Linked DNA regions of Homo sapiens: all the other regions are reported to be linked to region 7. Evidence: microRNA targets listed by miRTarBase, many of them from high-throughput screens and not tested one by one. Region 7 holds a microRNA gene; each other region holds the end of a gene's coding sequence.

What was found. The annotated mature microRNA hsa-miR-4728-5p reads UGGGAGGGGAGAGGCAGCAAGCA and lies in region 7 at 1,160-1,182, shown strand. An mRNA with a match to its seed (bases 2 to 7 or 8) in the 3' UTR can be bound and repressed. Matches are read on the target gene's strand: a 7mer-m8 pairs with bases 2 to 8, a 7mer-A1 pairs with bases 2 to 7 and ends in A, and an 8mer does both.
Region 1: the mRNA of C1D is a reported target of hsa-miR-4728-5p. The part of its 3' UTR that is shown has no 7-base or 8-base seed match.
Region 2: miRTarBase lists TCTN2 as a target of hsa-miR-4728-5p. Seed matches in the 3' UTR shown: 7mer-A1 at 3,066-3,072, 7mer-A1 at 2,933-2,939, 7mer-A1 at 2,920-2,926 and 7mer-A1 at 2,781-2,787.
Region 3: miRTarBase lists GPATCH3 as a target of hsa-miR-4728-5p. Seed matches in the 3' UTR shown: 7mer-m8 at 3,146-3,152 and 7mer-m8 at 3,136-3,142.
Region 4: miRTarBase lists KBTBD12 as a target of hsa-miR-4728-5p. Seed matches in the 3' UTR shown: 7mer-A1 at 1,196-1,202, 7mer-A1 at 1,164-1,170, 7mer-A1 at 1,031-1,037 and 7mer-m8 at 443-449.
Region 5: miRTarBase lists DSN1 as a target of hsa-miR-4728-5p. The part of its 3' UTR that is shown has no 7-base or 8-base seed match.
Region 6: the mRNA of DPYSL5 is a reported target of hsa-miR-4728-5p. Seed matches in the 3' UTR shown: 7mer-m8 at 3,651-3,657, 7mer-m8 at 2,860-2,866, 7mer-m8 at 2,414-2,420 and 8mer at 1,727-1,734.

What each region holds. Positions count from the first base shown.
Region 1 is chr2:68,039,567-68,043,641 of GRCh38, forward strand. C1D (C1D nuclear receptor corepressor) reads right to left here. Exons shown (of 5, transcript NM_173177.3): 5 at 1,564-3,487. The coding sequence ends at 3,323. Among named protein-coding and RNA genes, the nearest start is that of C1D, 21 kb to the right of the region's middle.
Region 2 is chr12:123,706,959-123,711,033 of GRCh38, reverse strand. TCTN2 (tectonic family member 2) reads right to left here. Exons shown (of 18, transcript NM_024809.5): 17 at 3,961-4,049; 18 at 2,635-3,430. The coding sequence ends at 3,321. Among named protein-coding and RNA genes, the nearest start is that of ATP6V0A2, 3.4 kb to the left of the region's middle.
Region 3 is chr1:26,887,681-26,891,755 of GRCh38, forward strand. It overlaps GPATCH3 (G-patch domain containing 3), which reads right to left. Exons shown (of 7, transcript NM_022078.3): 7 at 2,808-3,546. The coding sequence ends at 3,330. It overlaps GPN2 (GPN-loop GTPase 2), which reads right to left and starts at 2,603. Exons shown (of 5, transcript NM_018066.4): 1 at 2,006-2,603; 2 at 1,289-1,445. The coding sequence starts at 2,416. RefSeq lists enhancers at 1,764-2,641, 1,997-2,166, 2,677-2,946.
Region 4 is chr3:127,983,778-127,987,777 of GRCh38, reverse strand. It overlaps KBTBD12 (kelch repeat and BTB domain containing 12), which reads right to left. Exons shown (of 6, transcript NM_207335.4): 6 at 112-3,681. The coding sequence ends at 3,500. Among named protein-coding and RNA genes, the nearest start is that of SEC61A1, 67 kb to the left of the region's middle.
Region 5 is chr20:36,749,224-36,753,295 of GRCh38, forward strand. It overlaps DSN1 (DSN1 component of MIS12 kinetochore complex), which reads right to left. Exons shown (of 11, transcript NM_001145315.2): 11 at 2,572-3,674. The coding sequence ends at 3,565. Among named protein-coding and RNA genes, the nearest start is that of NDRG3, 5.2 kb to the left of the region's middle. RefSeq lists a silencer at 1-190.
Region 6 is chr2:26,946,710-26,950,784 of GRCh38, reverse strand. It overlaps DPYSL5 (dihydropyrimidinase like 5), which reads right to left. Exons shown (of 13, transcript NM_020134.4): 13 at 434-3,875. The coding sequence ends at 3,790. LOC124905979 (a long non-coding RNA gene) reads left to right here. Exons shown (of 3, transcript XR_007086251.1): 3 at 204-270. Among named protein-coding and RNA genes, the nearest start is that of MAPRE3, 22 kb to the left of the region's middle. RefSeq lists an enhancer at 716-1,216.
Region 7 is chr17:39,725,337-39,729,411 of GRCh38, forward strand. It overlaps MIR4728 (microRNA 4728), which reads left to right and starts at 1,159; the gene lies at 1,159-1,225. ERBB2 (erb-b2 receptor tyrosine kinase 2) reads left to right here. Exons shown (of 27, transcript NM_004448.4): 22 at 1-66; 23 at 371-517; 24 at 1,226-1,323; 25 at 1,479-1,667; 26 at 1,959-2,211; 27 at 2,353-3,322. The coding sequence ends at 2,708. MIEN1 (migration and invasion enhancer 1) reads right to left here. Exons shown (of 4, transcript NM_032339.5): 4 at 3,174-4,075. RefSeq lists an enhancer at 967-1,939.

The DNA.
Region 1 (4,075 bases), not on the chromosome of region 7:
GGTTTCTAGCTGGGCAGGGAGTTGGGAGATATAAAGTTAAAAATTAAACCTCAATTGCCAATAGCTATCACTATAGCTCTCTCTTTTCTGAACACTTTACTAATCTTTCTGGCTGTGTTAAAAATTATGCCATAATCTCAGACTTCTTGAGGGAATAATAAAAAGTTATGCCATAAATAAGCACTTTAAAAAGGCACATCAAGTCAGAGGGTGGCTATTCTAAAGAGTAGTCTATGGCTGTACACCCACTTTGATAGGAAAATGAATATGCAAACCAAAAAACATTCAAATCATTTTCTTGAAAGCCCGCTAACAGGTAATATAATAGCAAATTATTCAAATGAAACAAATCTACAGAATTCCATTATAAAATCCTGTATACTTTCTGCCAACATAGTTGTTAATGACAACTATAAAATGCTAATATATGAACAAAATATGGCTTGTATTTCCAAAACTGGAGAGTTTTAGATCAGAATATAGGGAAAGATAGATGTTTATATTTGTAAATTATGTTCACGTCACATTGATATAAAATACGTTGCTACCAAGATCATTCAGGAAAAGAGCCACTGAATTTATCTGAGCAGGTTTTCTAACTATGCTATGAAGGGAGAAAATGAGACATCAGTGCTTTTTCTTCCCTTTAGATACCAAATTTAGCTATTACATGAGGCTGAGTCACTGTTCACATCTTTCTTAGTTAATGTCACTTTGCAAAGCCAGAATTTCTGGTAACTTATTGAATAAAATTATAATTTAACTGTATGATAAACTGAGTGATTCCTAAAGTATCTTTTTCTCCAGTGACCTACTTAAGAAAAAAGTATTTACATTCAATACGCTGTCCATTTTTGAAGTCTTTCCTACACTTCTGGTCAATTTTAAATACCTTATTTAGAAATAATGCCAATCCATTTCTAATTGCTAAGTAGAAGGATTTTTTAATCTACAGGGTATCTTAAAACTAATCAACCTGACATAACTTCCTAATTCCAGGAATGTAACATAATTCAAGCTTCAATTTTTCACTCAACATATTCTGTTTTACTAAAAGGATTTCCCACCTTACAACTATGAACAAGAAAAAATTTGTACTTAAAATAATATTAAAATGCAAGATCTCATTATTTAGTACAAGATTAATAGACTATAATTCTAATCTTAAAAATATCTATAGATGCAACTTCTCCAACTTGTTAATTCCCAAAGAGATTAATAAAAGATGTAATTAACATCTAAACTTAGAGCAGACTATCATGTGGAACAAACTATTTTAACAAGAACTGCACCATAGTCAAATAGATCAACCACACACATCACCCTTTATGGTTCTGAATAAGGTTAATGAGCACAATTTGTCATAAATTTTCCCATAACTCTGAGAAACTGAATTGAATAAAAAGACTATTTTTTTCTTAACACCTTATAAAGATAGGATAAAGGCCGTAGTTATCGTCTTTGGAACGTTGCACCTAGCACTGTATCTGGCAATATAAATGTCATTAAGTATATTTGTCAAAAGAATAAACAAACAACAAGCAAATAAGCAACCCAATGCACTACAGCCATTCAGCTCCTTATTACGTGCTAAGTATTTAAAATTATACATAATAAAATGGAATATACTCAAACTTTTATTTCTACCTAATAATGAAAGAATTACTCACTTAAAAGTTACACAATTTAACAGAACGTAGAGGTGCACTTTCATAAACCAATAACTTAGCTAAAACCAATAATGATTTTCTGCAATTGTATAACATTTTTCATTTAAGCTGTTTTTCTTTTATGAAATTAGAAAATATACAGAAATCCAAATAAATTTCTTTGCAATAAATAACACAAAGACAGGTACACTACACTTGATCTTAACAGTAACACATTTCTCTCATGAAGAGGTTATTTTTAAAAATAGCTAGAAATTTGGAGACAAAGGCAAAAAAAGGAGTAAAATAACTATAAATGTTCACTAATGTTCTTCCACTTCAAAAACTGACATCAGAGACAGAAAAGACCTTCTGCGTCTATCAGTGACTTCCTCTTCATGTGTCATAGAAAGAGTTCAACATGCTTTACAAAATCCATTACATTTTAAGACCATTTCCAATATCTGCTATCATAAATCAAGAAATCCATTTATTCAAGGTTACTTATGGAGAATTAATCACACAGAAAATTTTAACAACTCCTTTTTCAAAAATTAAAGTACTTTACTATACTTGGCATTCCTACACATAATGATATGGATTCAAACACTGAAAGCATTAAGGGCATATAATTAAAATTCATGGGCTTAGACATTTAAAAAAAGGTTTACTATGTAGTACTCTCTGTAACTAATATTCCAGAAAAATAAACCACAATACAAACACAGTGTAATCTCCTTTGGACTTCTCATCTGCTTAAGTGGCATTAGGTAACTTAAGAAGTTGTTCCAAAACACTTGTATGTACTTGATACAGCCTCAAAAACATGAAATAAAAAAAATCTGAAAAAAAATGAGATGAAAAGAACTGTGGACACCATGCATCAGGAACAAAAACTCAAGAATTTCTCTATTTGTGATGACTTCTAAAACCTATCTTCCTAATTTGGAAGGCAAATTTACTCAAAAGATAAAAATACACAGGTCAGTTATACAACATTTTCAGCCTTTATTGAGAGTACAGTCATCATGCCAAAATTCATCCATCAACATACAACCTTATTTCCCATCTAAAGTTAATGAGAATGTATTTTATTTTAAATGGGACATAGAGGCAACATGCCAAGAATTAAAGTACAACCATAAAGTTTTAGTTTCACACTTTGAATATCAACAAAGCAGTAATTCCTAAAATCATGAAAACATGATAAAGTATCTATACAGAAAAAAATGAACATTTAAGTCATTTCACGCTTTCTTAATATCATATAGTGAAAACAGATGTACCTATAATTTCAGCCTACAGATAGCATACTTCATAAGGTCATTATTCATTTAAAATAGTACAAATGTTTACAAAGAACATTTCACTTAAATTTCACAGCTGCTTATAAAATGGTACTTGCAAGACTGACCTATATAAAGAAATAAGAGTCTCATCAAGAGATGGTAAATTATAAATATATAATATATCACAATGTTAAAATCCTCAGTGCTAATCAATAAAGATAATGATCTTTGGAGAGGAAAGTATTTAGCTTTACATATTTACTGTGAATTTACATATTAATAAGAAACACATTTAAACCTTGCCCTGCCACAGAATTATTTTGCGGGGGGGGGGGGGGGGGGGAAGATGTACTTTTTGAATATGTGTACATCAAAACCAAAAAGTTAACTTTTACTTTTTCCTTTATTGGCAACTTTTGATGCATTTTTCGATTTTGGTTCCCAGAGGGCATTTTTTACAAATCTTGAAGCTGCACCTCTGTCCAGCTTGCCAGCCTTTTTCTTGTCTGTTATTTCCTTGACTCTGTTCATATATACTCTGATTCTTTCCTTAAAGATAAAAAACAAAGGCAATAGATTTACTAAGCTATTCGCCACCACTGAATTTTATTATACTGTACACCTTGGTTAAATTCAACATATATGTATTTATTGCCTATTAAAGTGCATGGTGCTAGGAAATGCAAATGAATAGGATAAATACGCTCCCTGCTTGCCTGGAGTTCATAGTCGGAGGGTGGGGAAAGACAGATGTTAAAAAGTCATTTCAGAAGTCTTCTGTTTCCAAAGAGTTAGAATCACACTAAGACATTACTCCAGAAATAAACATCGAATTGAAAGTTTCTAGGTGGTTATACATTTTTGAAAAACACCATTAACATAAATCTACATATTAACTGTTTTGTATCTAAAGTAAAAAACCGGAGCTTTCATATACTTGCAAAATACAAACTAAATTCTCCTGAAATTTTTCTAAACAGGAAATACATGAGGTAGTACTTAACTATCTTTTCACATTACCATCTAGTGTAACAATTAGGGAGAATGAAAATACAAATTATTCAATTTTATAATTTTGGTAAGTACATGAAATTTTCTAATAAAATATACAGTTCTAATCAGACTTTACAGGGTGAG
Region 2 (4,075 bases), not on the chromosome of region 7:
GGGACATTGTTTCTGCCACTGTGGTATCTCCAAGCCCCAGCACATAGTAGCCACTCAATAAATAGTTCATGAATGCATACATAAATGTATAAACTTAAAAAAGTTAAAACCATAGACACTCCAGACCCCATTCTGCCAAACTGAGTTTTTTCCTTCTTTTAAGTACAAAAGGCGTCCTCACAAAGCCCACAAAATCAAGCTAAATTACCTGTCATTTGGAAGTTTTAAATTTATTTTCCATAAATACCTGAAATCCAAAGCTAGTTACACTAGGCTGGGTGCCCTGGCTCACTCCTGTAATCCCTGCACTTTGGGAGGCTGAGGCAGGTGGATCACTTGAGGTCAGGAGTTTGAGACCAGCCTGGCCAACATGGCAAAACCCCGTCTCTACTAAAAAAATATAAAAATTAGCTAGGCGTGGTGGTGGGCACCTGTAGTCCCAGCTACTCGGGAGGCTGAGGCAAGAGAATCGCTTGAACCTGGGAGGTGGAGCTTGCAGTGAGCTGAAATGGCATCCCTGGACTCTAGCCTGGGCAACAGAGTGACACTCTGTTTCAAAAGAAACAACAACAACAAAAAGATACAGTAAGAACTGTGAAGGTGAATTCAAAGGCTGAAGTTCAGACAATAATTGACTCAGACCCCAGCTCCGTCAGTCCAGTACTGACCCAGATTCCTGAGTCAGCCCTAGAGGGGTCGGGTGAAGGCCCAACACCACCACAGTACAGATGCTGAAATTCACGGTATTTCCATCATGCAGAAACTTAGGACCTCTGCAGTGACTAGCTCATCCCCCTATTTGAAAGTGGACTCAGGCCGGGCGCAGTGGCTCATGCCTGTAATCCCAGCACTTTGGGAGGCCGAGGCGGGTGGATCACGAGGTCAGGAGATCGAGACCATCCTGGCTAACACAGTGAAACTCCGTCTCTACTAAAAATACGAAAAATTAGCTGGGCATGGTGGTGGGTGCCTGTAGTCCCAGCTACTCAGGAGGCTGAGGCAGGAGAATGGCGTGAACTCGGGAGGCGGAGCTTGCAGTGAGCAAAGATCACGCCACTGCTCTCCAGCCTGGGCAATAGAGCAAGACTCCGTCTCAAAAAAAAAAAGAAAAAAGAAAATGGACTTAAGACTGGAGGAAAATTTGAAATTGCCCCTGGGCAGGAACTCTGCAGCGAAGATGAAACAGCACATTTTATGTGGTGCTGGGTATCAGCAGGCACTAGGAATTCGATCAAAAAGTATAAAAGGGAAAATAATTATTTTTCAAAATTAGGCTTAAATAACATAGAAAATCCATCTGAAACAACTAAGTTACCTGGCACACAAAGAAAACTTACAGGTGATGTGCCATGTGGCCACTGTAGGACCGTGGCTAAAAACATCTATTCCAGGGCTGGGCACAGCAGCTCATACCTATAATCCCAGCACTTTGGGAGGCTAAGGCAGGTAGATCACTTGAGCCTAAGAGTTCGAGACCAGCCTGGGTAACATAGGGAGACCCCCTTCTCTACAAAAAAAAAAAATACAAAAACTAGCCAGGTACAAGCCTGTGGTCCCAGCTACTTGGGAGGCTAAGGTGGGAGGATCACTTGAGCTCAGGAGGTCGAGGCTGCAGTGAGCCGTAATTGTGCCACTGCTCTCCAGCTCTCCAGCCTGGGTAACAGAGTAAGACCGAGTCTCAAAAAAAAAAAAAAAAAAAAAATCCATTCTCCCCACTGAGTGGGGTTGACTGTTCCCATGTGACGGCCCATGGGAGAAATTTGTCAAGACTCAGCTAGGAAAAACTGTCCTTCATTGATAACCAGTTAATTTTTAATGAATAGATTTCATAATTCCTGTATTAATGAATAGATTTCATAATTCCTATAGCTAATCATACTTGGGTTTTTGTAAACTGGGGTCTTGGTTGGGCATAGTGGCTCCTGCTGGTAATCCCAGCACTTTGGGAGGCTTAGGTGGTAGGATCGCTAAAGCCAGGAGTTTGAGACCAGGCTGGGCAACATAGCGAGACCCCCATCTACTAAAAAAAAAAAAAAAAAAAAAAAAAAAAAAAATAGCCAGGCGTGGTAGCTGTGTGCCACCTGTAGTCCCAGCTACTTGGGGGAGAATCGCTTGATCCCAGGTGTCTGAGTTTACAGTGAGCTATAATCGTGCCACTGCACTCCAGCCTGGGCAACAGAGGGAGAACCTGTCTCCAAAAAACAAATAAATAAATAATGAATTAGGGGCCTGCTTCTGCTAAAGGCAACCTCTGGCATGTATTTTAGGGCTTACATGTGCCCCTGGTTTTGTTTTACTTTTCTCTTATTATTTTCCTCCCGCAGCCCCCATATCTTTCCCCATCAGTGATTTTGTGTTTTTGTATTACATGCATTTTTAAGGATTTCTTAATCCTTTCTACGGAATATGGGAAACATCAATCAACACGAATGTATTAAAAACTAAAGAAAAGACTGATTCTCTCTGGTATAAATAAAACTCCTATGACTTTAACTAATTTGTGATAAGCTAAAATTTCTAACATTTTTGAGTTCTTCTCATGCATTTTACTCAGTTCAGGCCAGCGATGAGAATATTCATTCTGCATTGGATAGCTACATATATGAATTAAAGTCACAGGGCACTTAATAAAAATTTTCTACAAAAATAAGACATTTCATTTATTAAAATTTTATAGAGAAGCATACAAGACTACAACAAATCACTGAAGTCAAGGTCTAAAGTCTTTGAGAAGTCAGATGGACCGGACGCAGTGGCTCACGTCTGTGATCCCAGCACTTTGGGAGGCCGAGGTGGGCAGATCATCTGAGCTCAGGAGTTACAGACCACCCTGGGCAACAAGGCGAAACCCCGTCTTTACCAAAAATACAGCCAGGCATGGTGGAGCATCTGTGGTCCCAGCTACACCAGAGGCTGAGGTGGGAGGATTGCTTGGGAGGCAGAGATTGCAGTGAGCCGAGATTGTGCACTGCACTCCAGCCTGGGTGACAGAGACCCCGCCTCAAAAAAAAAAAAAAAAAAAAAAAGGCCGGGTGCGGTGGCTCATGCCTGTAATCTCAGCACTTTGGGAGGCCAAGATGGGCGGATCATGAGGTCAGGAGTTCGAGAGCAGCCTGGCCAATACGGTGGAACCCTGTCTCTACTAAAAATACAAAATTAGCCGGGCGTGGTGGTGCATGCCTGTAATCCCAGTTCTCCGGAGGCTGAGGCAGGAGAATCGCTTGAACCCAAGAGGAGGAGGTTGTGGTGAGCCGAGATCACTTCAGCCTGGGCAACAAGAGCAAAACTCCATCTCAAAAAAATAAAAGCCAGGTGGTTGTCTAACTATAGGCTTTGCATATTCTGGTCCAGGGGTTGCTGAGGAACAAGGCCAATGTGAGGAACAACAGCAACAGTAAGCCCTTAGCAACACACTGAGAATGCAGCTCCCCTGAAAAACAATGGACAAAATTCAACAGCAGTATTTCTTAACTCTTTTGATAACAGTGTAGGTATAGGCTGGGTGTGGTGGCTCACTCCTGTAATCCTAACACTTTGGGAGGCCAAGGAGGGCGGATCACTTGAGGCCAGTTCGAGACCAGCCTGGCCAGCACAGTGAAACCCCGTCTCTACTAAAAATACAAAAATAGCCAGGCATATTGGTGCTGTAATCCCAGCTACTCCAAAGGCTGAGGCACGAGAGTTGTCTGAACCCAGGAGGCAATGGTTGCAGTGAGCTGAGATTGTGCCACTGCACTCCAGCCAGGGTGTCAGAGCAAGACTCTCTAAAAAAAAAAACAGTGTAGGTAGAAATAAACTAAGCCAAAACAGTAATGGTGATCACTTCCAAGTGGCAATATTATCCGTACTTTTTTTTAAGTTTCTATATGTTTTATGCTTTCTGTAACATTTAGACATCATTTAAAAAATTTTTTTAAATTGACATAACATAATTGGTCATAGAAATCTGTTTCACCCTACCTTGATAATACTGAGTCCATGGATATAGAAGCTGCGGCCAACACACCTCATTTCTGTTGCAGTCATACTCTGTATAATTGATCTGGAATCTAGAAAACATTTTAGAGGGTTACAA
Region 3 (4,075 bases), not on the chromosome of region 7:
CCTCCTGAGTAGCTGGGACTACAGGTGCCCGCCACCATGCCCAGCTAATTTTTTGTATTTTTAGTAGAGACGGAGTTTCACAGTGTTAGCCAGGATGTTCTCAAGCTCCTGACCTCGTGATCCACCTGCCTCGGCCTCCCAAAGTGCTGGGATTACAGGCGTGAGCCACTGCGCCTGGCCTAATTTTTTTTTTTTGAGACGGAGTTTCACTCTTATTGCCCAGGCTGGAGTGCAATGGCGAGATCTCGGCTCACTACAACCTCCGCCTTCCAGGTTCAAGCGATTCTCCTGCCTCAGCCTCCCGAGTAGCTGGGATTACAGGCATGCACCACCATGCCTGGCTACTTTTTTGTATTTTTAGTAGAGATGTGGTTTCTCCATGTTGGTCAAGCTGGTCTCGAACTCCTGACCTCAGGTGATCTGCCCACCTCGGCCTCCCAAAGTGCTGGGATTACAGGCGTGAGCCACCACGCCCAGCCGAGAGTACTAATTTATCAAGAAAAAAAAGCTGGCCACTGGGACTCTAGCCAACTCCCCTGCCTCATACCAGCCTGCTTCTACCTCAATCTTCCCTATTTTGTCCCTGGCCTCCCACCCCTTCTCTGTCTCTGTGCCAGGTGAGAATATAGCCTCCTTCTGTGAGGACAGAAGGAGGCTGTCTAGGAGCCAGGAAGCAGACTCTCACCAGACACCAGATCGGCTTGTGTCTTGATCTTGGACTTACCAGCCTCCAGAACTGTGAGAAATAAATATTTATTGGCTAAGCCATCTGGTCTATGGTATTTTTGTGATGGCAGCACAAACTGACTAAGACAAGGCCTTTATTCCTACTAGTGCCTCTGCATAGAACAGTCCTCCCTTGGCTGGCTCCTTCTCACCATTCATGTCTCAGCTCAGATGCCACTGCTTCAGAGCAGAAGTGAGAAACTGAGGTCCAGAGAGATGAACTGACTTACCCAGACCACACGATGATTCAGTGGCAGATCCAGAATTTAAACTCATGCCTGTTTTACTCCAAAGCTCACTCACTTCACTCCCAAATATTCACTGTCGTATCACTTTAATTCCTTTGTAACACCTAACACCATCTGTAGCTCTCTTGTCTCCAAAATCTACAACGGTAACTAGCACAGAGTGGCACAAAATAAATGGGCAGGAGTTAGAACCTGCCTGTGGCTACTATCACCAGACCACGCAAGGCACCAGAGGCAGCTACCTTCAGCTGAGATGTCTGCTTCATTCTAGCCCAGCTGCTGCCCTGCTCTTCGCCTGGAACAGAAGCTCTTACCCAGCTTCCCATAATGCTCAATGAGGTCCATCTTGGAAAGGAGGTTGATGTGGGGCAGTTCCACGTGCAGCATGGTGGCCAGGGAGGTACACAGTACTGAAATGAACTTGGCAGGGTCTGTGCAGTAGTGAGAATCCACGAGGTGGACGGCAGTCAGCTGGGAGGGAATAGACAGGGTGAGAGTGGCCTGGAGAAACAGGGATCAGCATTCCCTCATGAGAATGAGGGCTTGAGGACAGAGGGGAAGCTTTCCCCATTAGTCTCCTGCCTCTGTTTCTTTCTAATAACCACCCTGGTTTCCTTCTCCCAGGAAATAGGAGTCATTTTTTTTTTCTTACAAGAGGTCTTGCACTGAGCCTCCCAGTGGGCAAGGGGTTTAAATCCCATGGCATCTGACTCCACTCTTTCATTTACTTTTGCCCACCAATTTACAACAATCTCCATGCCACTTTCGACATTAACCCCTTCCATACTTCCAAAATCGCCAAGTTGGCTACTAACACATTTTACACGTGAGGAAACTGAGGTTCAGAGTGATGAACTGACTTATCAACACCACACAGCCAGTCAGTAGCAGAGCCAGATTCTGAACTCATGCCTGTTTTACTCCAAAGCGACCCAGCCCCTACCTCCCTGTGTGACATGGGGGCGTGGCGTCTGTCCTCCCTGTCTCAGTTACTCCATCCGCAAAATGGGCCTCCCCGCCCTGAGACGCACCCTGAGGTCCCACTGCGCCATTTGGGAGAAGATGCTGCGCAAGGCGCCGTGATGCGTGCAGAGCTCCACCTGGCCTGGGCAGTCGAAGAGGAAGTAGTGGCCGCGGAGGGGGTCGAGCTTGGCACGCAGCCAGTCCAGGTTGGCTTCCAGGTACTCCATGCAGTAGAGCAGGCCGCCGTTGGGCCCCAGGCGCAGCGCGTCCATCACGTCGCCCAGCCCCACCAGCTCGCCCACGTCCACGGCACACTCGTACGGCAGCCCCTCGTTGGCCGGGTCCAGGTTCACCACCGCCACGCGCCGGCCCAGCGCGCGCAGGAACTCACTCATGCCCAGGCAGTACGTGGTCTTCCCTGAGCCCGGCGGGCCGATCACCGCCTGCCCGAAGGCCGTGGTCGGAGCGGCCCCTGCCATTGGCGGCCCGCGGCCCGGAGCAGGTCAACTCACAGGGAAAACGGGGCAGGTAGCCGCGCCGGAGACGAGACTGAGGGCGAGGGTCCCAGTACGTATACCTCGTTGGCGGCCAGCGTCACTCGCCTCAGGCGGAACAGCTGAGACCGTGTCGCGCAAAAGGAGATAACAGGCCGATACTAACTAGACTAACTCGACTTCCGGACAGCGTCGGAAACGGCGAGCCAACGAGAGGAAGTCCCGCCCTCACGGCGGGGACGAAGCTAGACGCCGAGGGGCGGGCGGCGCAGCCGCATTTCTCTCGCGGGTAGTGGGTCGAATGTGGGGTCTTTGCGGGAAAATCGCTCTCGGAATTTCTCTAACCTTCAGACTCGAATTAGAAAAGTAAGGGAGCTCCAGTAGTAAACGTCTTTATTCTTCCGTGACGTCGCACACCCAAGCCACCTCCCGCGGACTCTCCGCTGGCAGTCCCACCCAGTGAGGGTAGAGGCGGTGGAGGGCCCACCCAAGGCCGGCTCTTCCAAGCACCACAAATCCTCTCCTCGCCCAGGTCCCTTTCCCCCTTTCTGGCCTTCGTGGGGACACCTTCAGAGTCCCCAAGGAAGGCTGTGCTGATAGCCTCACTCAACCCAGCTTTTCAAAGTTCTGCAGGAGGCAAAGGGCAAGCCCAGAGATTAGGGTTAGAGACCAAAGACAAGCGGTCGTTACCCCTAATATCCAAGGGGAGGGGACGGGAGGGGGCTTTTTGTAAAAATGCCCCTGAGGTATAGAACCGGCAGGCAGGCAGGCTCGGAACAAAACACCCTGAACCAGCCACGAAGACTGCTGCTCCCAGACTCCTTTCTGCTTCAGTGGTAGATGAGGCCAGGGCAGAGGGTTTTCATCATGTAGCTATGAAAGGAAGCCCCCAACCCGGTCAGTCAGGCAATGAGGGGCTGTCTGAAGCACAACTGGAACCCCTCACAAAGGCCATGTCTGTCCGAAACTTCATGCTGGTGGGTGGCTGGCGGCGGAGCAGTGACTCCGTCTGGTCTTGGGGTAGAGGCTCATCATAGATGGTGGAGATGAGCCCCAAGCCATTTCTACGGGGCCTCTTCAGTTGCCCAAATGGCTGTAGCTTCTCTCCATGGTACCTGGATAAAAACGGGCTCTCAGTGAGAAGGCTGCTCTCAAACTCCAGTTAAAGGGGTTGGGAGAGGACGGGGAAGTAGTTACTACATATCTGGTTTGTCCAAAGACAGAGGCTTTAAATCTGGGTCTTTGTTCTCCAGCCCTCTTATCTATCCATTGACAGTGCCAGCAAGAAGGGGCCTCATATAAAATTTTCATTCTGTCACTACAGACTTCCTAATAGTAACCATCAAGTCCAAACTCCTCCAACAAAGGGTATGAATGATCTTGTTAAGCCTTAGGGCTTACTCTTTAAAAAAAAAAAAAAAGTCAGATTTACTTTATTTATTTATTTATTTCTGAGATGGGGTCTCACTATGTCACCCAGGCTGGATTGTAATGGCGTGATCTCGGCTCACTGCAACCTCCACCTCCTGGGTTCAAGCGATTCTCCTGCCTCAGCCTCCAGAGTAGCTGGGACTACAGGCGCATGCCACCATGCCCAGCTAATTTTTTTTTTTTGTGACAGAGTCTTGCTCTGTCACCCAGGCT
Region 4 (4,000 bases), not on the chromosome of region 7:
CTCACAGCCCTGCCCCGGGCCTGCTGCTTGTCCCCTGGCCATCACTCCCCAACTCAAGGGACCCTCAGCATCTCCTGGAACTGCAATGTGAAAAACAAAATGAAAGTGATCTTTTATTAGTAAAAATTTATTCCTTAAGTTCAAATGTGAAACATTTGCTCATTATGAAGTCAGGGAGAACAATGCCACCGTGTTGAACACACTGGGGCAGGCTGTGGTTGACAGCTGCAGGCTTCTGCCAGCCTAGCATCCAAATTACTTCCTTATTGTGTTTCCTTGCTCAGTGTCAAACAATCCTGTCACAAAGATAAGAATTAGCAGATAGTAGAAGTTTTATAAGAGCCCATCATGCAGTACTGCAACAGCCTTCTATTAAAGTGAAAACAGGAGTGATAGGAATATATTTCGAAGTTGAATTTCTAACGATATCTGGCTGCAGGTGGGGAGGGTCATGTTGTTTTTAATTGCAAATACAGAAGTCAGACAAGAAGCACCAAGAACTTAAAATAAGCACTAACCCAGGCAAGCAATCTGTTGTATGGAATCAAAGAAAAATCAAGATCAGACATCTGAAATCTGTGAAGCACCGGTTTCGACCTCGGGGATTCCTCAGAAGAAGTTTGAGAAATCCTGCCCTTGATGCCTGCTTCCCTTCAGTGCTAAGCCAGCTCCTGGTCACTGCCCTCCTGGCTCCAGCAGAGGTCATGCCCCTTCTCGGTCCTCCCTTGGCACTCTCTGGAAAGTTCCACTGGGACACTGCCCAGACCTCGCATTAGACAGGAATGATGTTTACCCACTTATCTTGCCTCCCACAGGCGGGCGATGGTCTCACCTAGCGTGACCCTCAGGTGCCTCTGCTGAGCTGCCACAGGGTCCTGAATGTGTCCATTGAGGGCATCGGGGGCCTCAGATCCGAGTAAACCCTTGCTTAACTCTCAGCCGCCAACTGGAGGAGCCAAGCAACAGGGTATGGGAAATTAAGAACCATCTCAGCCAGGTGCAGGGGCTCATGCCTGTAATCCCAGCACTTTGGGAGGCCGAGGCGGGCAGATCACGAGGTCAAGAGATTGAGACCATCCTGGCCAACATGGTGAAACCCCGTCTCTACTAAAAATACAAAAATTAGCTGGGTGTGGTGGTGGGCGCCTGTAATCCCAGCTACTTGGGAGGCTGAGGCAGGAGAATCACTTGAACCTGGGAGGCGGAGGTTGCAGTGGGCTGAGATCGTGCCACTGCACTGCACTCCAGCCTGGCGAGAGAGAGAGACTCCGTCTCAAAAAAAAAAAAAAAAAGAAAGAACCGTCACAAGCCATATGCACATCTGCCCCACTTCCCTAAAGCACTGAGTCTGTTTTGGGCACCTTGCTTTGGGAAGTGCTGACTGCAATGATAATGACAGTGATGATAATAATGGCAGCTAAAACATGCTTATTATTTCAGGATTTCACAGGCACTTTGCTCAGCACTTAATCCTCATACCAACCCTATAAAGTATGTATTAATATTTTCCTTCCCACTCTGCATATGAGGGAAATGAGGCTTTAGAAAGGTCATCTTGCCCAAGTTCACATGGTTAGCTAAGTAGCAGAGCGGGGGCTGGAACCCAGATCTTGAACCCAAAACATCTAGGAGATGTGCCATGACATGCCAACAAGGCCTCCTTGAGCCAGGGAGACGCGGCAGCTTTCTGGACTTTTCAAGCAGGTGGAGCAGGTGGAGTGACTATGTGAAGAGGAATGGAGGGAAGTGGAGGCCCTGTGGAGGCCGTCCTCAACCCTGGCCGCCGACAGCCAACACAGCAGCTAGGAGGAACATCTTTGTAGCAAGAAAAAGAATGCACAGATCATGATCATCCACTGGGGAAAGAGTAAGCTCACTTTAACTCAGATTCCTGGACGTGCTCGGGGCCCAGGCCCTCTGATTGAGAAACACTGCCCCATGCCGGCCACCCAAGAGGTCACCCACATGCCAGGTACTGTGAGTGCACTTGGGGCACAAGTGCGAAGAGAAAGGCGGGACCCCCACCCTCCCGAGTTGAGCCTACTTGGGGCCAACCTACGCTGGGTCTCCTGGTCCCTCTCCTTGGTGGCAGAAATAGGTTTCCAACAGGCTCCAGTTTTGGCAAGACCTGCCTGTCCTGCCTGGTGGGCAGCTGGAACCTAGGGGCACAGGCTAGCGGTCATCACAATCACACAGCTCAGCACCAAAGAAAGCTGTCTCTACTTAGGGTTTGTCTCCCTCTGAATTTACTGACCACTCCTGCTTCCAAAAGAGCCTTGTGCAATGTGAAACTCTTTGGAGAAGTTGCTGAAGAAGAGCTATGAAGATGCCCTCATTGAATCCACTGTGCTTCCAGAATTAGAGACGGGAAGTAAGATAGACGGACTTCCCATGTGTCATTTAAATGTTATTTCTAACATATATTTTGGGAGTGACTGTCTTCTGATTATGCTCAATTGTGGGCTGAAGTGGGTGGCTCCATCTTTATTGCAAAGGCCGGGCCATGGGGTTGGCAGCAGCTGGAGGAGATGCTTCTTCCCCTGTCCTCAGCCAGAGCCTTCTCTGTCCCTGGCTTGGGTGGCTTGGGCGAGTCCTGTTCAGCCAGGACTACCCTGCAGATGGTTGTATGTGTCTGAGAGGTGGGCAAAGGCAGCCTGGGTCAGCCCACTCCAGGACACTCCCTGCCAGCCCCGGAGTGGACCAGGCTGCAGAACCCCACATCCCTGTCCCGGACAGAGTCAGCCCAGGGCAGGATTCTTGGCCACTGTGGTCTGGCTTGAGTGCCTTGGTTGTTAGGGGCTGGTAGTACAGCTAGCCCTGCTGCTGGGTGGCGTTGCTTCAGTAGAAGGGGATTCTGAAGGAGAATGGTCAGTGTTTATAAGACTGAAGCTGGAACAGAGCACAGAGAGAAGTCTCCCTTAATGCACGATTTTGAGACAATTCCCTGGCTTACAGACCAGGTCCAACTCCTCATTCTTTCAGGCGTTGGTCATCTAGCTACAACCTACTTTTCCAGCCTTGACCACAAACCCTGTGCCCCAGGCAATCTGGCCCAGCCAGGATACTGCAGACAGGCACGAGCTTTCTGTCTCTGGGCCCTTGCTTGGCTGTTTCCATGAACTCATCATTGACTGCACCCATGGGACCACTTCCTCCTCATCCTTTTGGGGACCCAATAAAAGGTCTGCTCCTTGGCAGTGCTGTTCATGGGTCCCCAGCAGAGTGAGACCCTCCCTCTGCTGCTCTCCTGTGGCCCTGTGCCCCTCCTGTGGCCGTCATCACCTCTTCTTTGTAGTGTCTTATTTACCCTATCAGGCTGGGAAGTCCCTGAAGGGAGACTCCCCATGCTCCCCACCCAGTGCCCAGCACACACTGCTTCTTCACACACAGGCCACTACGCATGCAGTGCACATGACTGGCATGACAGAGATGCTGTGGGCCCTCTCCGTTCTGAAGGCCTTGTTTGCAGAACAGCAGGAGGTCCTCCAGCAAGGTCACCTTAGTGCTCATTGCCTTCTTCCACCAAATCTGAAGGCGGGGGGATGAGGTCTCGGGGATTCATCCTGGCTACTAGGCAGACATCATAGCTGTCATGCATGAGGACGTTGATGGCTACAACATTCCACTGGTTTTCCCATGGGTCCAGTTCCAATATTTCTTTGGAGATAACCTCATGGCGATCTGAAAAACAGCAAAGTGGGAAGACAAAAATCTCATGTGGGTATTAAATTCAGAGGCCATCAGCACCATACTGAGTAACTTCCTCCAAAAGGCAATGTCTTAGTCCACTTGCTGTTACTGTTAACAGAATACCCAGGACTGGGTAGTTTATCAAGAAAAGACATTTACTTGGCTCACGATTCTGGTGGCTGGAGAGTTCAAGACTGGGGATCTGCATCTGGTGGGAGCCTTGGCTGTTTCAACTCATGGCAGAAAATGGAAGGGGAGTGGGCATTTGCAAAGAGGTCACTGGGACAGGGAAGGAGTAAAAGAGAGAAAT
Region 5 (4,072 bases), not on the chromosome of region 7:
GACTCCTGCAATAACCTAACTGGTCTCCCACACCCATACCTTGCTATCTTTTCCCCACACCACAACTAGAGTACTCTTTTAAAAATAAAGTTCTGATCTTCTCGCCCTTTCTTGAAGCCTTCTAATGACTTTCAATTATACTTGTCTCAGGCCAGTCTTCTACTGGTGCCCAGCACTCCTGCTTTATTCTTTTTTTTTTTTTTAAGTGTCCCAGCATGCTCCACTGTCCTCCTCAAGCCTTTGAAAATTGCTTCTCCTTTTGCCTGAAATACTTGCCCCATTTAACTCCTTCATCTTTCCCATGTCAGCTAAAATATCTCTTCTGCAGAGTTTTCTCTTGTTCCTTGTATCGTCAGCAAACTGAGCATCATGAGAGAGAACCCATGTGTTTTTGCTCTTTGCTCCCTCCTCCAATCCTAGAACTGTGTGTGGCATATGGCGGGTACTCGGTAAATATATAAAGGAATAAAGAACAAATGTAGGTCCAAGCAAGGAGATGTCATTTCTCATTAACTGGCACTTGCGCCAAGGTTTAAGACTTAAGATTATGACTGGGTGTTTAACTGAAATGGGATTTGTCCCTTTAGTGGGATCAGAGAATAAGAAACATTTTATTTTGGCTGAGCACAGTGGCTCACACTTGTAATCTCAGCATTTTGGGAGGCTGAGGTGGGTGTATATCTTGAGTCCAGTTTGAGACCAGCCTGGGCAACATGGAGAAACCGCATTCCTACGAAAGTACAGAAGTTAGGCCAGGCACGGTGGCTCACGCCTGTAATCCCAGCACTTTGGGAGGCTAAGTTGGGTGGATCACCTAAGGTCAGGAGTTCAAGACCAGCCTGGCCAACATGGTGAAACCCCATCTCTACTAAAAATACAAAAATTAGCCAGGTGTGGTGGTGCATGTGTGGAATCCCAGCTACTCGCAAGGCTGAGGCAGAAGAATCACTTAAATCCGGGAGGCAGAGGTTGCAGTGAGCCAAAATGGCACCACTGCACTCCAGCCTGGGCAACAGAGGGAGACTCTGTCTCAAACAAAACAAAACAAAAATTAGTCAGATGTGGTGGTGCACACCTGTAGTCCCAGCTGTTTGGGAGGCTGAGGTGGAAGAATTGCTTGAGCTCAGGAGGTTGAGGGTCCAGTGAGCCATGAGCATGCCATGGCACTACTGCCTGGATTTATTTATTTATTTAGCTTGTTTTTGAGCCAGGGTCTTGCTGTTGTCTAGGCTGGAGTGCATAGGCACAATCATAGCTCGCTGCAGCCTTGAACTCCTGAGCTCAAGGGATCTTCCCGCCTCAGCCTCCTGAGTAGCTGGGACTACAGGCATGAGGACTACAGGCACACACCATCAAATTTTAAAAAATTTTTAAATTTTTTGTAGGGACAGGGGTCTCACCATCTTGCCTAGGCTGATCTTGAACTCCTAGCCCCAAGTGATCTTTCCACTTCAGCCTCCCAAAATGCTGGATTACAGGTGTGAGCCACCATGCCTGGCCAGAATAAGAAACGTAAGTAATAAATTAGATGGTGGGTTTTTTTGTGTGTGTGTGGCTTTTTTTTTTTTTTTTTTTTTAATTTTGAGATAGGGTCTCACTCTGTTGCTCAGGCTGGAATGTAGTTCTGTGATCATGTCTTGCTGCAGCCTTGGCCTTCCGGGCTCAATTGATCCTCTCACTTCAGCCTCCCAAGTAGCTGGAAATACAGGTATGCACCACCACTCTCAGCTAATTTTTGTATTTTTTGTAGACAGAGTTTTGGCATGCTGCCCATGGCTGGCCTCAAACTTCTGGGCTCAAGCGACCACTCACCTCAGCCTCCTGAAGTGCCTGGCCTAGTTGGTGTTCTACTGATAATTAATGCAGAGGTATATCTCAACACTACTGTTCACTTCAGCATCTTGGCAAAGAATCCTATTTTCTGTTAAACCCTCCTAGTTTTTTTGGTTTTTTTTTTTTGAGATGGAGTCTCGCCTTTTCGCCCGGGAAAAAGCACTGCCCAGGAGTGCAGTGGCACTATCTCAGCTCACCACAAGCTCTGCCTCCCGGGTTCAAGTGATTCTCCTGCCTAAGGCTCCCAAATAGCTGGGATTACAGGTGTGTGCCACCATACCCGGCTATTTTTTTATAGATATGGGTTACCATGTTGGCGAGGGTGGTCTCGAACTCCTGACCTCAAGTGATTCACCTACCTCGGCCTCCCAAAGTGCTGGGATTACAGGTGTGAGCCACCATGCCCAGCCCTCCCTCTTTTTTTTTTTTGAGACAGTCTCACTCTGTCGCCCAGGCTGGAGTACAAGGGCACGATCTCGGCTCACTGCAACCTCCGCCTCCCGGGTTCAAGCAATTCTCCTGCCTCACCCTCCTATCTGGAACTACAAGTGCACACCGCCACGCCCGGCTAATTTTTTGTATTTTTAGTAGAGACAGGGTTTCACCATGTTTCCCAAGCTGGTCGTGAACTCCTGAGCTCAGGCAATCTGCCCGCCTTGGCCTCCCAAAGTGCTGGGATTATAGGTGTGAGCCACCGCACCCGGCACTCCCTTTTTGTTTATACACTCAAAACATAGATGAAGACAAGGGAAAGCTTTTAATTATGTGCAATTTTATAATACAGATTATAAACAAATAGAACAATGAATAGTAGTACTTACTCCTTTCTTGTCATGAATCCAGGATTTAGGTCAACTCAATATGAAAAACTGAAGCACACTACAGACAACAGGACATAGAGAATGAGTGGTATTTCCTTCAAATTGAACATCTTGTGAAGTGACATATGTATCCCAATGATGCAAATAATGCTCAAAACTTTTTTTTTCATTTTTTTACAATTTTTAATTTTTTTTAAGACAGTGTCTCACTCTGTCGCTCAGGCTGGAGTGCAGTGGCGCAATTAGAACTCACTGCAGCCTCAACCTCCTGGGCTCAAACAATCCTCCCACCTCAGCCTTCTGAGTAGCTAGCACTACAGGCACACGCCACCACACCCAGCTAACTTTTTGTATTTTTTGTAGACAGGGTTTCACCTTATTTCTCAGGCTGGTCTTCAACTTCTGGGCTCAAGCAATCCACCCGCCTCAGTCACCCAAAATGCTAGGATTACAGGCGTGAGCCATTGCGCCCAGCCTCAAAACTCTTCTACCTAAAATCACCTTCAGAGCCATGCTAGAAAATTAGTATCATTCCTTTACAATCGGAATCCAACTTGGCCACTAAAATGTTTCCTTAGACTTGGTCCTAAATGATTTTTGGATTGTTTCAAAACCTGAAAAACACCTTCACAGGATAAAGATAAAAGAATGGGCCACTGGATCTGAAGATCATTTCAAAAAAGAAGTTTGAACTTTCAAGCATTTTGCACATTCCTGGGAAAATTGTCTATACAATATTCATTTGGATGTACAAATTCCATCACTTTTTGAAAAAAGTCAAAGTGTTCTACAGTCAGTCCTGCCAGTTATCTTCAAAGGCAACGAGCAGAAATCACGCAGTCACCACGTGCTGGGGCACTCTTCCCATTCCTCTCCTCTTGGGCACCTTGTGGCAGAAACTCTCATAAAGTCACTGACAAGATCCAGATCCAGATCCATGTATGGCAGGTGGGTTCTGTAGCTGAAGCTTCAACAGTTTTCGAGCTGGTGAGGGATCTAATTGTTGCATGCTTCTCTTTCCTGCAGAGAAAAGAGGCCAAAAAATAAATTTCAATTGAAATAACGTAACATTTATTGAAAACTTAATGTAGGGACATTGTGACACACATGGAAGGGCATTACAAAGACAAATAAGAGAGTCTCTGGCCTCAAGGAGATGACAATTTGGTAAGAATGCCAGCCACAGCTGGGCATGGTGGCTCACGCCTGTAATCCCAGCACTTTGGGAGACCAAGGCGGGACGATTCCTTGAGCCCAGGAGTTTGAGACTAGCCTGGGCAACACAGTAAGACCTTGTCTCTACAAAAAAAAAAAAAACAATTAGCCTAGCATGGTCCTAGCACGATCCTCCAACTACATGGGAGGCAAGAGGATCACCTGGGAGCCCAGAAAGTTGAGGCTGCAATGAGTCATGACTG
Region 6 (4,075 bases), not on the chromosome of region 7:
GCATATTGGCCTTGGGACAGCGCTTTGTCTTGTGATTTTTTTTTTTTATGAGGCCATCGTTCCATCAGCCAAACGTTCTGCCGAGTGGAGAGGTGGCTATGGGCTTCCAAAATGGTAGCCAAGAGAATACGCGACTATAGGTAGATGGAGTGAGTCTAGTTTTTTTCCCTTTTGCATCTAATTCTTCCTCCTAATTATTTCAGATAATTTGGCAACCTTGTCCCTGGAAATCTGGCACCACTGGGGCTCCTGTCTCTCAGAATTAAAAAAAAAAAAAAATCCAGTCTCTGCACAAGCCTCCCAGTGAGCTGCCACCCAATAGGAGAGACAGATCAAAGCTGCCTTTTCTTAGCAACTGAAGCCTTGCCCAGCCACCGTAGAAGAGATCTCTGCCAAACTCCCTCCTCTTTGAAGAAACACAACAGAGTCCAAGTGAGAAGTAGCTACAGTTTAATACAAACCTGCACCAGAACACAACGTGTCGGGCTGTTTAGTTTTTGCCTCAAACGGTGGCCAAAGCACAGGACCATGTGTCGTCTTGGGGTTGACACAGTCTTAGCACCATGACATTTACAGGGGAGTGGGGAAGTCACCTGGGTGCTGGGGTGCTGGAGGCTCCATCCGACCCCAGGCTGTGCCTGCGCCTCAGCAGCTGGAGGGGGTTTGGGTTTCCTTGTGGTTCTGTGGCTTCTGGGTCAGTATCAGAAAAGCCCTCATCACGACATCGGCTTGACAGAGACCTACTGTGGACTCCTAGCACTACACACACGCACGCACACGCACACACAGTAGCACAATTTTCTGGCAACTTAACCCCACAAACCTAGAGAGCAGCTAAGGCAAGAACAACAGTATTTATTCAGCAAGTACAAGACCAGTTTGAGAGCTGCATTCAGTGCAACCAGAGACCCTTTCGTTCCAACCAGGAGCCAGTGGGGCTGGTGACGAAGCTGGCTGGAGCTCTGCACGGGGCAAGGAGTGCATGGTGGGGGCTGACCGCTCATTTGGCTCCTTGAATCTCTTTCTGATTTCTATCTAGAAGCTCCCGGGCAAGGGTAGGGCCTATGTAGGGACTGGGGGTGGATGAAGCGCATGGCCTACAGTGGACCACTCCAAGACGTGGTTCCCTGGTGCCACGGGTCACACATCTCTCAGGCGGAGGCACTCAGAGAAGGTAAAGCTTTCCTAGCCCAAGCAAGGATGCTCTGCCCAGCTGGCCACCACCGCTGCTGCTGGGCTCTTTGACATCTGCCCAAGGCCCATGACCCAGTGAGGGCTGACAGGGATAGAGATGGTGTGCACTGCACCAGGAGGCGGCGTCATGGTTTCCCCCATCCCTGGTGGCTTTCCCAGGCCTGGGTCCTCACCCCTGTTCCAATGGCTGCCACTTGCCATGAGCCCCTTCGCCACCTCTGCTCCCCGGCTGACCACCTCTGTCCTCTCAGCCCCTGAGTGAGGAAAGGGGGAGTGAAGGGAGAAGTGAGGGTGTGGACGCAGCTCACACTGCACGGTTAGCCCCCAATGGGTGACTAGTCTTGGCTCAAACACAGAATGTGCATGAGGTTGTTTATAAGAAAGATGAGAAAAAAAATCTATCTTCCTGTGCAAAACAAAGCAGGCTGCCTACCAGGAAAGTAAGTCTTCTCATTGGTTAAACTCTCAGGTGGGATCTACAATAGATGTCACCCCAGACCTCCTCTCCACAGGTGGGGTAGATAGCCAAGGTTGGGAGGGTCATCACAGACACTTCTGGGGTCAGAGGACCTGAACTTTCTGGGTCTTAGTTTCCTCATCTGTAAAATGGGAAGAATAATAAGTGCTCCATTGTCATGAGGACTAAGTGAGAGGTCATATACGGAAGTGGTTTGAATACATGAAAAGCACTACAGAGATGTGCAGGGGCTGACTTTTTTGTTTGTCTGTTTTTTGAGATGGAGTCTCACTCTGTCGTCCAGGCTGAAGTGCAGTGGCGTGATCTTGGCTCACTGCAAGCTCCGCCTCCCGGGTTCACGCTATTCTCCTGCCTCAGCCTCCTCAGTAGCTGGGACTACAGGCGCCCGCCACCACGCCTGGGTAATTTTTGTATTTTTAGTAGAGACGGGGTTTCACCGTGTTAGCCAGGATGGTCTCGATCTCCTGACTCCATGATCCACCCGCCTTGGCCTCCCAAAGTGCTGGGATTACAGGCGTGAGCCACCGCACCCGGCCAGGGGCTGACCTTTAACCGAGGGTCCAGAAGCCTCGCGCAAGCCTCGGGGGCTGAAATCACATGTGCAACATGAAGTCACTTCCCACGGGGCAGACCAGGCTTAACAAGGGCAGGCGGCTGGGTCACTTCCCAGATCACTGGAGGTGGAAGGAGACACCCGGCCTCTAGTGTTTCCATGGGAACTTCTGTGGGGCTTTAGAAGCAGGGAGGGCCCACCTGGATGGACAGGGGAGAAGATGAGGCCATGAGCTGGCAAGGGCCTGGTGCCGACCACGGGAGATCACGGCACCTGAGCAGCAATGCGGGTTCGACAGCCAGGTCCTGTGGGCCTGGGGTCTCCCTCTCTGGTGTCTGGCAAGCCCCTCTCCCACTCCTCCTCTCTCAGCAGGCATGAGGCCTCTTGCCAGTCACACAGGAGGAGCGCTGAGTCTCTGTCCAGCAGGAAGAAGTTATAGGAAGCCGTGCGTGTGTGTGTGTGTGTGTGTGTGTGTGTGTGTGTGTGGTGGCAGGTGAAGACAGGGGAAGGCAAGGGGAGTGCTGGGAGTGATCAGGGGCAGAGAGGGGAAAGGACACCTGCTTCCTGAAGGGCTGGCATCTCTGGGGCTAGCATCCCAGGCCCCCTTTTGGAATGTGGGAAACTAGACAAGGAGGGGAGGGGAAGGGGAAAGGGCCAGGGCCTCCCGCAGCCCAGAAGACTGCAGGCGGGGAAAAGAGAGGCCTGTGAGCCCAGCCCCCTCCACCACCCCTGCCCTGTGCTGTCTGGTTGGTGTCAAGTGCAGCGTCTCCTAAGGACCACATCTATTCCTGTCGCTATTCTATGCTAGTGACACAAGCACCGTTATTTTTCACAGGATGCACAAACAAGTCAAACCAAACTACTGCGCAAACCAAACGTGCAAAACAAAACCATTTACACGCGCCTGGCACCAGCCTCGAGCCCCGCCCAGCTACCCTTCTGGGCCTGTGACCCCCCGAGGGTGTGGGCGGGGCGCAGGAGAAGCTGGCGAGGGGCACCAGGAGTCCCAGCCACCCCCATCCCTGCCCCTACACAGGGCCAGAGGTGGGTTGGGGGAGATAGGACGTCCTGGGCATGGCTGGGAAGCTGACATCTGTCTGACTTGGGAAATGTCACCACGGGGCCTAAGGGGTGGGGGAGGAGGCCTTTACTTTGAAACCACATCTGCTAAAGTGCTCTGGGCAACTGGCCAGTCAGCCAGGGGGCAGGGCACTAAAGTCTGGGCTTTCCCAAAGCCAGCGGAGGCAGGAGTGAGAGGAAGGGCTGGCCAGGGCTCTATGCATTGGGCTCTGTGCATAGTGTGGGCTTCCTGGGCCCCAGAAAAGCCCGCCGAGGCCAAGGCAGAAAGGACTACAGCAGGAGGAACACATCTCAAAGTGCCTGTTAGAGTTGGCTCGAAGCACAGTGAATCACTTTGCAGACATAGGGAGGGCTCCGTGGGTCCCGGGGCCCCCCTCGGGTGGTGTGCCACCCAGCCCAGCCTCTCCTGCCCCTGCAGCTTCGGCTGGAGAGTTGCGGGCTGGTGGCGGCGGTGCGTCCTCACTCGGGGGGCTTGGCAATGCCTTTACCAAATGCCACTCGACCTGCCTCCGGGAGGAGCGAGGATCCGAGCTGAAGCTCGCTTTGGAACATGGTCATCGATCTGAGAGCCTGCAGGGAAGGAAGCACAGAGGGTGAGACGGGCTCTTGTGCCTGCTAACAAACCACAGACACCCTCTCCTGGAGGCTCACTGTGTGCATGGCCTGAGTGAATCCTCACAGCCACTCCATCCCATCTTATAGATGAGGAGACAGAGGCTCAGGGAAGTTAAGTGACTTGCCCCATGTTGCAGTGTGTAAGTGGCAGAGCC
Region 7 (4,075 bases):
AGTGGATGGCGCTGGAGTCCATTCTCCGCCGGCGGTTCACCCACCAGAGTGATGTGTGGAGTTATGGTGTGTGATGGGGGGTGTTGGGAGGGGTGGGTGAGGAGCCATGGCTGGAGGGAGGATGAGAGCTGGGATGGGGAGAATTACGGGGCCACCTCAGCATGTGAAGGGAGGGAAGGGGCTGCCTGTGCCCCACCTTGCAGGGTCTGTGCACTTCCCAGGATTAGGGAAAGACCGGGTAGGGTCTGTCTCCTGGCATCACATCTCCCCCTGCTACCTGCCATGATGCTAGACTCCTGAGCAGAACCTCTGGCTCAGTACACTAAAGCTCCCTCTGGCCCTCCCACTCCTGACCCTGTCTCTGCCTTAGGTGTGACTGTGTGGGAGCTGATGACTTTTGGGGCCAAACCTTACGATGGGATCCCAGCCCGGGAGATCCCTGACCTGCTGGAAAAGGGGGAGCGGCTGCCCCAGCCCCCCATCTGCACCATTGATGTCTACATGATCATGGTCAAATGTGCGTGGCTGAGCTGTGCTGGCTGCCTGGAGGAGGGTGGGAGGTCCTGGGTGGAGGAGCCCACAAGGGGCATGAAAGGGGACCAGGATGTATGTAGACCCAGGAGCCCTAGTATGTTAGGAGCCTCAAAACCTTCTTGTATCCCTTTTACAGTCAAAGTCCAAAGCCACTCTTGAGGAACACTCTTGTACAAAATTAAGCTGGGCACAGTGGCTCATGCCTGTAATCCCAGTACTTTTGGAGGCTGAGGTGGGAGGATCCCTTGAAGCCAGGAGTTCAAGACCAGCCTGGGCAACATAGTGAGATCCTATCTCTACAAAAAATAAAAAAATTATCTGGGTGTGGTGGTGTGTGCCAGTAGTCCCAGCTACTCAGGAGAGGCTGAGGCAGGAAGATCACTTGAGCCTAGTTTAAGGTTGCAGTAAGCTATGATTGCACCACTGAAATCCAGCCTGGGTGACAGAGCGAAACCTCATCTCAAAAAAATAAAAAAGCAAACAAAAAGAAAAAAAAAATTAAAAGGGAAACTAGAAGAGATGCCAAAGGTTCTGGCTGAAGACCCCAGAGTCTGGTGCTACTTCTCTACCACCTGAGGGCTTTGGGCTGTCCCTTGGGACTGTCTAGACCAGACTGGAGGGGGAGTGGGAGGGGAGAGGCAGCAAGCACACAGGGCCTGGGACTAGCATGCTGACCTCCCTCCTGCCCCAGGTTGGATGATTGACTCTGAATGTCGGCCAAGATTCCGGGAGTTGGTGTCTGAATTCTCCCGCATGGCCAGGGACCCCCAGCGCTTTGTGGTCATCCAGGTACTGGGCCTCTGTGCCCCATCCCTGCCTGTGGCTAAGAGCACCCTCCTGCAGAGGGTGGGAAGGAGAGATGAGTCCAGTATGCCAGGCCCCTCACGGAAGGCTGCATGCTGGGCTGGGGAGGGGCCACCATCCTGCCTCTCCTTCCTCCACAGAATGAGGACTTGGGCCCAGCCAGTCCCTTGGACAGCACCTTCTACCGCTCACTGCTGGAGGACGATGACATGGGGGACCTGGTGGATGCTGAGGAGTATCTGGTACCCCAGCAGGGCTTCTTCTGTCCAGACCCTGCCCCGGGCGCTGGGGGCATGGTCCACCACAGGCACCGCAGCTCATCTACCAGGGTCAGTGCCCTCGGTCACACTGTGTGGCTGTCTGCTTACCTCCCCCAACCCCGGTGGACTAGGGTCCCTTTCTCTGATGTTCCCTCAACTGTCACCTCTCAAGGAAACCCCATTATCCCTACAAAAAATTCTTACTGCCTTCCAACCCCTGTGACCCCATTCTCTCCACGGTGACTGTGTCATACCCCAAAGGTGACCTCTGTTTTTCTCCTGTGACCCTGTCACCTTCCATGGAGTCCCCATCCCAGATCCGTGAGTGACCCCCATCATGACTTTCTTTCTTGTCCCCAGAGTGGCGGTGGGGACCTGACACTAGGGCTGGAGCCCTCTGAAGAGGAGGCCCCCAGGTCTCCACTGGCACCCTCCGAAGGGGCTGGCTCCGATGTATTTGATGGTGACCTGGGAATGGGGGCAGCCAAGGGGCTGCAAAGCCTCCCCACACATGACCCCAGCCCTCTACAGCGGTACAGTGAGGACCCCACAGTACCCCTGCCCTCTGAGACTGATGGCTACGTTGCCCCCCTGACCTGCAGCCCCCAGCCTGGTATGGAGTCCAGTCTAAGCAGAGAGACTGATGGGCAGGGGAGGTGGGACCTTCAGCCCAGGGTCCACTGTGGGGGCAGAGGGAGTGGCAGAGACACCGGGGTTCCTTCCCCTAATGGGTCACCTTCTCTTGACCTTTCAGAATATGTGAACCAGCCAGATGTTCGGCCCCAGCCCCCTTCGCCCCGAGAGGGCCCTCTGCCTGCTGCCCGACCTGCTGGTGCCACTCTGGAAAGGCCCAAGACTCTCTCCCCAGGGAAGAATGGGGTCGTCAAAGACGTTTTTGCCTTTGGGGGTGCCGTGGAGAACCCCGAGTACTTGACACCCCAGGGAGGAGCTGCCCCTCAGCCCCACCCTCCTCCTGCCTTCAGCCCAGCCTTCGACAACCTCTATTACTGGGACCAGGACCCACCAGAGCGGGGGGCTCCACCCAGCACCTTCAAAGGGACACCTACGGCAGAGAACCCAGAGTACCTGGGTCTGGACGTGCCAGTGTGAACCAGAAGGCCAAGTCCGCAGAAGCCCTGATGTGTCCTCAGGGAGCAGGGAAGGCCTGACTTCTGCTGGCATCAAGAGGTGGGAGGGCCCTCCGACCACTTCCAGGGGAACCTGCCATGCCAGGAACCTGTCCTAAGGAACCTTCCTTCCTGCTTGAGTTCCCAGATGGCTGGAAGGGGTCCAGCCTCGTTGGAAGAGGAACAGCACTGGGGAGTCTTTGTGGATTCTGAGGCCCTGCCCAATGAGACTCTAGGGTCCAGTGGATGCCACAGCCCAGCTTGGCCCTTTCCTTCCAGATCCTGGGTACTGAAAGCCTTAGGGAAGCTGGCCTGAGAGGGGAAGCGGCCCTAAGGGAGTGTCTAAGAACAAAAGCGACCCATTCAGAGACTGTCCCTGAAACCTAGTACTGCCCCCCATGAGGAAGGAACAGCAATGGTGTCAGTATCCAGGCTTTGTACAGAGTGCTTTTCTGTTTAGTTTTTACTTTTTTTGTTTTGTTTTTTTAAAGATGAAATAAAGACCCAGGGGGAGAATGGGTGTTGTATGGGGAGGCAAGTGTGGGGGGTCCTTCTCCACACCCACTTTGTCCATTTGCAAATATATTTTGGAAAACAGCTAGGCACCGGCCTATGTCTGGGGGTGGCTCTGTGCCATCCCTTCCTGCTCACCTTACACTCAATTCCTCTTTTCCTGGAGGGAGTGGCTGGGAATCTTCAGAAAGCTTGGATGAGGAGCCAGACATCCAGTTCTCCAGCTTCAGGGTTGGGGGAGATCGGGAAGCTGGATTCAGATCTGAGAGCCCTTTGACGACCAGATCATTCTTATTTAGAACGAACTAATTCCTAAGGCCACTCACCAGAATGGGGTTATTTCCTCCTTGTGAGTGAGGAGAGTGGTGGGTAGGGTGGGGGAAAGACGAGGCAGGGTCTACTGTGGGACTCATTTTCCTTGCCTTGGCTATGCCAGAGGAGCTCACTGACCTAAGGAGTAGCTGTCCAGAAAGCCCACCCAGCCAGCACAGCCACCCTGGCGGTGCAAAGGCTGGGCTGACCGGACTTCTGTGCCCCCCACATTCCCAGACTGGACGTATAAAAACACACACTAGTTAGCATTAGTGTTTGTAGCGCCACTTTACTGCCAATAGCTGACATTGCCCTGGGTTAGGGGAGAATAAATAAAATCTGTGGCATCAGACAGGTATTACCGAGGCGAAGAGTGGACTGGGCTTTCGTGGGCACTTACCCTGGGAAGGGGGTATGAGGTGGCTGGAGAAGTGTTCATGGAGAGTGTCTCTCTCCTGCCCCCAAGGCCACGGAATCTTCTATTCCTTCTTTGTACCCAAAGGGCAAAGTGGAGGCCAGGGTCTC